Regions from separate parts of the Homo sapiens genome. Here region 2 is reported to be linked to region 1. The links are microRNA targets in miRTarBase. Many come from high-throughput screens and were not tested one by one. Region 1 holds a microRNA gene; the other region holds the end of a gene's coding sequence.

Region 1 (4,148 bases):
AAACCCGGCCCTGCTCGGACCCGGAAGGATCCGAATCCGCCCCCCTGACAGGGTCCTCTCGGCCGAGGTCACCCCAGCTGGGCCAGAGGCAGGCGCACGCGGCTCTACAGGCAGCGGCGTCGGTTTCGGCCCGGCCCTGCCCCCAACGGCTCCGCTCTCCCGCGCTCACCCCGAGCCCAGTCCGCCATCGTGCCCTGCCCCGGCTCCTCGACGCGGACACCGACGCGGCCACAGCCGCCTCAGACGTGGCGCAGTCGCGGGGAAAGAGCTTCCGGCCCCGCCCCCAGCTAGCGATGGCCCCGCCTCCGCACCGACCACGCCCCTAGATAGCCCAGCCCCTTCCGCTTCGGGCTCGCTGACTTCCGGCTTAGGGCCGAGGGTGGGGAACTGCCGGGCGCGGAAGCGATGGGCATATCTGTGGCTTATTTTCAGCACTGTCGCGCAGACAGTGGCGCGATCTCAGCTCACTGCAGCCCCCGCCTGCCGGGCTCCCAAGGTGCTGGGATTACAGCAGCACCGCGGATGTGACGTTTGGTGTTCCTGTGAACGTGGGGCGGGGCGGGGCCGTTTGCTTGCTCAGTGCCTAGACGATGGTGGTGGAAAGACGCTTCTGTGGGTTAGGTCCTAACGGTTAGGAAGGATTCACAGGCGGGTCATGAGGAAGGAGCAGACCCCTCGGGCAGAAGCCCGCGAGGAGCACTGGGTGTGGTGGGGGCAGGGGTGCCTCCTCTGTCAAGTGGAGATCGGCGCCTCGCTCGTGCCTGCGAGTGCGCGCCGCGTCGAATACAGCCGTACAGAACGCACTACAGGAAAGTGAAGCCGGGAGAGAGACTGGGAGGCGGCGCGGGGACTGGGGGCCGTAGACGCCTTTGCTCCCGGGCACTTGTTAGAAGAGCGAGTGGATCGCGCTTCCTGTGCGTCACTGAATCCTCATGACGGCCACTGAAACGGACACGCAGGATCTTTGCTTTTCAAGAGGGAACTGAGTCCAGGCCAGACTGGGTTGCTCCCCTTTCTCTCGGCCCCTCCACCTTTGCAAGTGCTGCTCCTTCTGCCTGGAGTGGCTCCTCCAGTCTTTTCCCGGCTCACTTCCCACCGTCCGGTGTCAGCAAAAACAGCACTTCCTCACAGCCCGTTGCAGCCCAGCAGTCGCCTTTTGCTTCTTTTGAAGCACAGCCCTGTGACCGCCTCGTGTCCTTTTGTTTTTCCTTGTCCCCCTTCCCCTCTGGAACATAAGCTCCACAAAGGCAGGGACCTGGGAATCCCGTTCGCCTGCATTCCCCAGCAAACGCCTAACGAACCCAATGGCCCAGGACTGAAAATTCCTTTCCACTTCGGCTTTCCCCTCTACATCCCATCGGTTCTGTGGAGCTCGAGGGGCGTCACTGTGTGTGTGGCAGGGCACGGTGGGGGCTGAGATCGTTTCCTGTTGGAACTTCTGGCCCAAGAAGCGCGGGTCACAAGGAGAGGGGTCAGTTCGGTTCAGAGCGACTCAGCCCCTCGACTCGGGTCTTAAAACCTCCGAGCCGCCAGTTCTGCCTCAGGCCGCGCCCCCTTAAAGCGCCACCAGACGCTGCGCCCCGTTAAAGCGCCACCAGACGCCGCGCCCCGTCCCGGCCTCCCCCGCGCGCTGGCGCGGGGCTTTCTGGGCCAGGGCGGGGCCGGCGAACTGCGGCCCGGAACGGCTGAGGAAGGGCCCGTCCCGCCTTCCCCGGCGCGCCATGGAGCCCCGGGCGGTTGCAGAAGCCGTGGAGACGGGTGAGGAGGATGTGATTATGGAAGCTCTGCGGTCATACAACCAGGAGGTAAGCGGCCGCCTGAGGCCGGGGGGCGGGCACGGAGGGGGTGGGGCAGGGTCGTGCGCGGGTAGCAGGGAGGGCGTGGGTGAGGCAGAGGCTGTGTCAGCAAGCGTAGGGGACGCGGCGGGGTGCGGGGGGCAGGTCTGGGATGCAGTGTTGCGGGGAGAGTGGGGGTGCACCCGTTGGGTGGCAGGCGTGTAGGGATGGGGGCGAGTGCCGACCCTGCCATCCGTTCTGAGCAGTGGCTGCTGCCTGAGTTAGAGGCCAATAGGCCGCCCGCATCAGCGGACGCGGATCCTACCCCTCTGTGGATTTGAATTCACTAGTTCTCTCTGCAGCACTCCCAGAGCTTCACGTTTGATGATGCCCAACAGGAGGACCGGAAGGTGGGTGCTGGCCCAAGGGGTAAAGGGGCAGGGACGGGTGGCCCCAGGAAGAAGGGCCTGGTGGAGCCGCTCTTCTCCCTGCCCACAGAGACTGGCGGAGCTGCTGGTCTCCGTCCTGGAACAGGGCTTGCCACCCTCCCACCGTGTCATCTGGCTGCAGAGTGTCCGAATCCTGTCCCGGGACCGCAACTGCCTGGACCCGTTCACCAGCCGCCAGAGCCTGCAGGCACTAGCCTGCTATGCTGACATCTCTGTCTCTGAGGGGTCCGTCCCAGAGTCCGCAGACATGGATGTTGTACTGGAGTCCCTCAAGTGCCTGTGCAACCTCGTGCTCAGCAGCCCTGTGGCACAGATGCTGGCAGCAGAGGCCCGCCTAGTGGTGAAGCTCACAGAGCGTGTGGGGCTGTACCGTGAGAGGAGCTTCCCCCACGATGTCCAGTTCTTTGACTTGCGGCTCCTCTTCCTGCTAACGGCACTCCGCACCGATGTGCGCCAGCAGCTGTTTCAGGAGCTGAAAGGAGTGCGCCTGCTAACTGACACACTGGAGCTGACGCTGGGGGTGACTCCTGAAGGGAACCCCCCACCCACGCTCCTTCCTTCCCAAGAGACTGAGCGGGCCATGGAGATCCTCAAAGTGCTCTTCAACATCACCCTGGACTCCATCAAGGGGGAGGTGGACGAGGTGAGCACTGACCTTAACCCATGGATGGGTCTCAACTCAGCTCCAACATTTCCTGGACCTGCTTCCTACTGGGTACCTTCAGGTTTCTGGGTGTCAGACATGGAGAGGACAGGACCTCCCAGCCTGTTGGGACAAGGCCAAGGAGATGCCAGTTCTGGGCTGGGACCTCAGGAAAGGCTTCTGAGGGAAGTAGAGGCCCCTTCTGGCTCTTGCTGCCTGGCAGGAGGGCTGTGTGGTGTCTGGGGAGACTGTAAGAGATCCTCCACCATGAGGCTGTGAGTGGGGCTGAGACAGAGTGTGACTTCATCCCTAAGGTATGTGTTAGCATTCCTAATCAGGGAAGTGCTCTTAGAAGAATACTCATGGAGTTTTTAGGAAGACAGCAGTGGTCATCTTTTGCCCCCAGCACTACCCAGAGTCACCTAGGAAGACCCCAGGGGACCAGGTATGCAGTACAGGAGGTGCACAGTCATTGCCACACAGTCCTGGAGTGCAACAGACAGTGGAGCCTCAGCAGGCAGCAGTGGGATGAGTGGGGCTCCTCACAGGAACCCTTCTTTCTTTGGTCAGGAAGACGCTGCCCTTTACCGACACCTGGGGACCCTTCTCCGGCACTGTGTGATGATCGCTACTGCTGGAGACCGCACAGAGGAGTTCCACGGGTGAGAATGGGGCTTTTTCTGGGAGGGAAGTGTGCCCACATGTCTAGATGGTCGTCCTCAACCCCGGCTCTGAACCAGAACCACCTGAGAGCCCAGGCCCCACCCTAGAGAGTCTGACGTTGTCTGGGTGAGTGAGACTGGACATAGCCATGAATTTGGGGGCAGGAATGTGCCAACTGGGCCTTGGGTAGTGGCAACAGTATGGTACTTACTAGGGCACATTGGTTCCTTGTCCCCGTTTTTGGTCTACCTGCCCCTAGGCTGGTCTGGGTTTCCAGAGATGGTCTGGCGCTTTGGCTCAGACAGGGTCGGGGAGGCAGTGTGTCTCAGTGCCCCCACTTCCCCAGGGGACCCCACTGTACAGCTGAGTGGCAGTGCCTCTCAGATCAGTCCCTGCCCTTGGCTTTGGTCCCTAGCGCTGCCCCTTTGGGACTCAGATGCCAGCTCATGTAATGTGTGGTTCAGCGGAGTCACAAAGATTGCACCTGTGCTCAGGGATTAGCCCTGTTGAAACCCCTACCTCCATCTGTCCCCAGCCACGCAGTGAACCTCCTGGGGAACTTGCCCCTCAAGTGTCTGGATGTTCTCCTCACCCTGGAGCCACATGGAGACTCCACGG
Region 2 (4,000 bases), not on the chromosome of region 1:
GTGGACACCTTGATCTTGGAATTCCAGCCTCCAGAACTGTAAGAAAATAAACCCCTGTTGTTGAAGGCCCCCATCTATAGTACTTTGTTATGGCAGCCCTGGCAAACCCATACATCACTGGCCATGCGTTCACCCGTTATATCACCATGCTCCAGTGCTCTGGGTGGGTGGACCTGCAGGTCTCAGAGCTCTGCTGCTTCAGGGCCATGTGGCTGGCACTGAGCTTGGCAGCAACTGAGGACCCTGTGTCCAAGGTCTTCTTCCCTAAATTCTCAATGGTGACACCTCTAAGGTGGGTGCTTCACTGACCCACAAACATGAGGGTGCAGTTACTGAGGGAGGAAAAATGGATACCAGTGGCAACCAGTCACCTGCTACCCTGTACCACTAGTGAAGAAACTGAGGATCAAGGAGAAGCTGTGACCTGCCCAAGGTCCACAGTCCATGTGCAGCAGCAGTGGGAAGGTGAGATTAGACTTTGGCCACATACAGTGAACTCTGTCACCACGTTAAGACTCCAGAAACCTCGCATCCAGCCGCTCCTCTGCCTAATGCCTGTTCGCACCCAGACACCACACAGACGTGGTCTGAGCAGGGCTCTTCAGAAAGACTGAAAATGTGACTGGCATACCACGTCAGTGAGGATGTGCCGGTGGGAATGAAAGCTGGCATAGCCTCTTGGAATGGGTGTTTTGGTTCAGATTAGGTTCAACTGTAAGAGAAACATCAAAAGTGGTTTGAACAAGATAGCCACTCATTTCTCTCATACGTTCCAAAAGTCATCTGAAGGTAGGACGTCCGAGGTCGTTACAGATGCACTACAGTGTCCATGACACCGGCTCTCTCTATCCTGTCGCACTGCAATGAGAAACTTCCATTCCCCAGATTACCCTATGGTTCAAGATGGCTGCTATCACTCCAGCCATTATAAGCACATTCCAGTCAGCAGGAAAGAAGGGCCACCTCTTATCTCTAAGGAAGTTGCATGCATACTTACATCCATTGGCCAGAACCCACCTGCAAGGAAGGCTAGAAAATGCAGTCTTTATTCTAGACAGCTGTGTATCTAGCGAAAAATCAGGGATTCTCTTCCAATGGAGAAAAACAACATATATTGGAGGACAACTATTGATCTCTGCAGAAGACTAATAAGAGTAATTAAAACTAATTAAGACTGTGTGCTCCAGCAATTCTACTTGCATGAGTTACCAAAAGCAAATTTATAAGGATTGTTGATGTTGCCTTGTTTGTTGTTGCAAAATTTTTCAGAAACAAAAGGGAAGTGGTTTATAAATTGCCATATATCCATATATATGTAGCTGCAGGGGTGAAGCAGTCCTCCACTTGACATGGAATGATCTCCAAGATCCATTGGAGTGAGCTACAGGACATTAGCATTACAGAAAGAGGGATGATATACACATCCGTTGGTGTGAACACAGGATGGCTCTGGAAGGTTATGGAGACCCTGGGTGCTTCAGGAGGGGGACAGAGGAATTCAGTGCCACACAGGGAGATTTATCGTTCACCAAATACCCTCCTGTACTGCATGAACCTTTTTTTTTCTTGCCATGTACATATATGACCTATTTTTAAAAAACAAACTTAAAAATTATAAAAATGGTCTCTTTTCTTCTGTTGATGCCTCTCTGCTCATTCACTGCAGCCAGCAAACTTCGGCTGACACTGTGCCATCTTGGACTGCATGTGGATCTGATGGTCAAATCCCTGCTGGCCCCAACCCTTACCCCGCTCACTCAGAATGCCGTGAGCTTGCCTTCCCTGATTACCAGGCTTTTACATGAGCTGAGAGGCCCCGATAAAGTATGCCATTCAGGGGCACCCTGCAGTACCCCCTGCAGCCCAGGAGTCCAGCTCACTGGCCGTACTGTTGGCCCTGTCCGCTATCAACCCTCCAGGCCCTCCCAGGGAGCCTGACACATTGGCCCCACAGACATGAGCTGTGTTGGAGCTTGTGCCCTCGGCACCCCATTCCCCCCTAAAAAAAAAAGGCTGATCGCGGAGGCGGGCAACAGCCTGATCCTCAGGGTCCCCACAGCCAGGGCTGAGACCTCCCCAGGCTCTGAAGCATGCAGTTGGCTGTGTCCTGGATGGGCTCCTCCTCTCCAACTCTGGGGATTACATAACTGGCAGCAACTCCCTTTCACTCTGGCTGCCAAAAAGCTCAAAGCCGAACTCAGGTACAAGGGCAGTGGCAGGGACAAGTGGGCCCCTCTCCCCTACTCATGCCTTATGATCCCAGTGCTTTGCTCTGATTTACTCCCATTTTCAGCCAACCACACCCATCCTTATGACAAACATCAGTCCCCGAGTCCTGTCTGCTGGGGGCCTACTATGTGCCAAGCACTATTCTTGAGGCTAAAAATAAGAGCTATCCTTATCGTTCATTACTGTACGCCAGCCACTCGTGCTTAGTGTTTTCCAATCCTTACAAAAGGCCCTGCAGGATGGGTCTTCTCCGCATTTTACAGATGGCAATAGTAAGTCCATTCTGCGTTTTAATGGAGCTGAGCAGAGAGAACCGGCTGCCCAAGACAACAGTGTGTGTCTGACAAAGGGAGAGGGGCTGGCTCACAAAACATAGTTCTCCTCTCTCTCCATGTCTGTCCCCCCTACTCAGATGGGCCCAGGGGCAGGGGCAGCGGCAGCTGGGATCCTGTTTCTCTTCACCTCCCCAGCAGCCAGCCCAGGGCTTGGGCACTGGGGACTGCTCCTTGGTTGAGCAGAGGCCCCCTGAGCCTCCCAGCCCCTCACCCAGCCCTCAGGCTCCTGAAAGGAACCAGCCCCAGTATTCCTGCAAAACCTCCACATTAGCACCTTCTGCTCCTTTTCCTTTTTATTAAAAAATAGATCAAGAAAATATACACACTTCAGTCCATCCACCATGGTGGATGCTTTGAGGAGGCCAAAGCACCATGGGGATGGGATGGAGGCATTGGGAGAGCCAGCCCTGCCCTCGTGCCAAGGGTGCAGAGAAGGAGGGTGCCCTCAGCCAACCTTGCCAAGCATGGCCCTGGAAGGAAAGCCTGGGCCATGTCACTGAGCAGTATGAGAGCAGGTGGGAAGGGGAGGAGGGTCCCCAGTGAGAGCAGAGATGGCAAAGGGGATTGGGAGCCCCAGGGAGGTGGGGCCTCCAGACTCATGGTGGGAACAGGGCCACACAGGGCTACTGCCCACAGAACGTCCCTTGACCTGGTCCTCCTCCCCTGGGGACTCTGGGCCTGCTGGCCTCCTCTCTGGCCTGTCCTCCACAGGCCCTGGCAGCTGCCCTCAGGCATTGATGGCCTTCCAGCGCTCGCTGTCTGTGCTGTTGATGCTGCCAGTGTGGCAGGGCATGGAAGCGATGTCATCCAGGTAGGCCACCCCGCCGGCAGAGTCGAACTGCGTGCTCGAGTAGCTGGCAGCTGAGGCCCCAGCAGCCCCTGCAGCCTCCAGGCCCTCCCGCCGGGCCACAGCGTAGGGCTGGGGTAGGTGTACATCTGGCTCCTCTGTCTCGTCCACTTGGCATTTGTAGGAGAAGAGGATCTTGGGCTCCGAGCTGATAAAAGGAAAAGAGGGGCATGGAAGCCTCACTGAGTGATTCAGGAAGAGCCTTCCTCTCCAGGCTGATGGGGCCACCAGATAAGGAAGGAATTGACCAACAGTCGCCTGACACCCACTCTGAGTGGGCCTGTGAGCTGGACCCCAGAGCCCATCTAGACTTGTTTTGGAACCCAGCCCTCCTCCCCCTGGCTGTGTGAGCTCAGGCGGGGGGCATCTGTGCCTGCTTCCTCATGGTGAAATGGGTGTGTGGACACCGTGTGGAGGAAGAATGGACATAAATCATGAGGCTTCAACAGTGCCTGCCCAAGCACTCAGGAGACATTGGCTGTGGCCTCCGCCCCCACTCCTGTGACCCCTGCTGCTCATGTTACCACCCACTCCACTCTGACCTCGTCCCTCGGCCCTCAGGGCAACTCTCCAAGGGGGACACACTACA

What was found. Region 1 holds the annotated microRNA hsa-miR-6743-5p (AAGGGGCAGGGACGGGUGGCCC, at 2,208-2,229, shown strand). A microRNA usually pairs through its seed, bases 2 to 8, with sites in the 3' UTR of a target mRNA and lowers its output. Matches are read on the target gene's strand: a 7mer-m8 pairs with bases 2 to 8, a 7mer-A1 pairs with bases 2 to 7 and ends in A, and an 8mer does both.
Region 2: the mRNA of TPRA1 is a reported target of hsa-miR-6743-5p. Seed matches in the 3' UTR shown: 7mer-m8 at 2,656-2,662, 7mer-m8 at 2,650-2,656 and 7mer-m8 at 1,836-1,842.

What each region holds. Positions count from the first base shown.
Region 1 is chr11:207,134-211,281 of GRCh38, forward strand. It overlaps MIR6743 (microRNA 6743), which reads left to right and starts at 2,203; the gene lies at 2,203-2,273. BET1L (Bet1 golgi vesicular membrane trafficking protein like) reads right to left here and starts at 266. Exons shown (of 4, transcript NM_001098787.2): 1 at 170-266. The coding sequence starts at 188. RIC8A (RIC8 guanine nucleotide exchange factor A) reads left to right here and starts at 575. Exons shown (of 10, transcript NM_001286134.2): 1 at 575-1,805; 2 at 2,138-2,185; 3 at 2,274-2,867; 4 at 3,438-3,529; 5 at 4,066-4,148. The coding sequence starts at 1,722. RefSeq lists silencers at 108-227, 1,289-1,487, 1,488-1,777, 1,848-1,957 and enhancers at 540-1,161, 1,017-1,186, 1,162-1,781, 1,856-2,443.
Region 2 is chr3:127,570,230-127,574,229 of GRCh38, forward strand. TPRA1 (transmembrane protein adipocyte associated 1) reads right to left here. Exons shown (of 11, transcript NM_001136053.4): 11 at 1,003-3,559. The coding sequence ends at 3,292. Among named protein-coding and RNA genes, the nearest start is that of MIR6825, 3.1 kb to the right of the region's middle.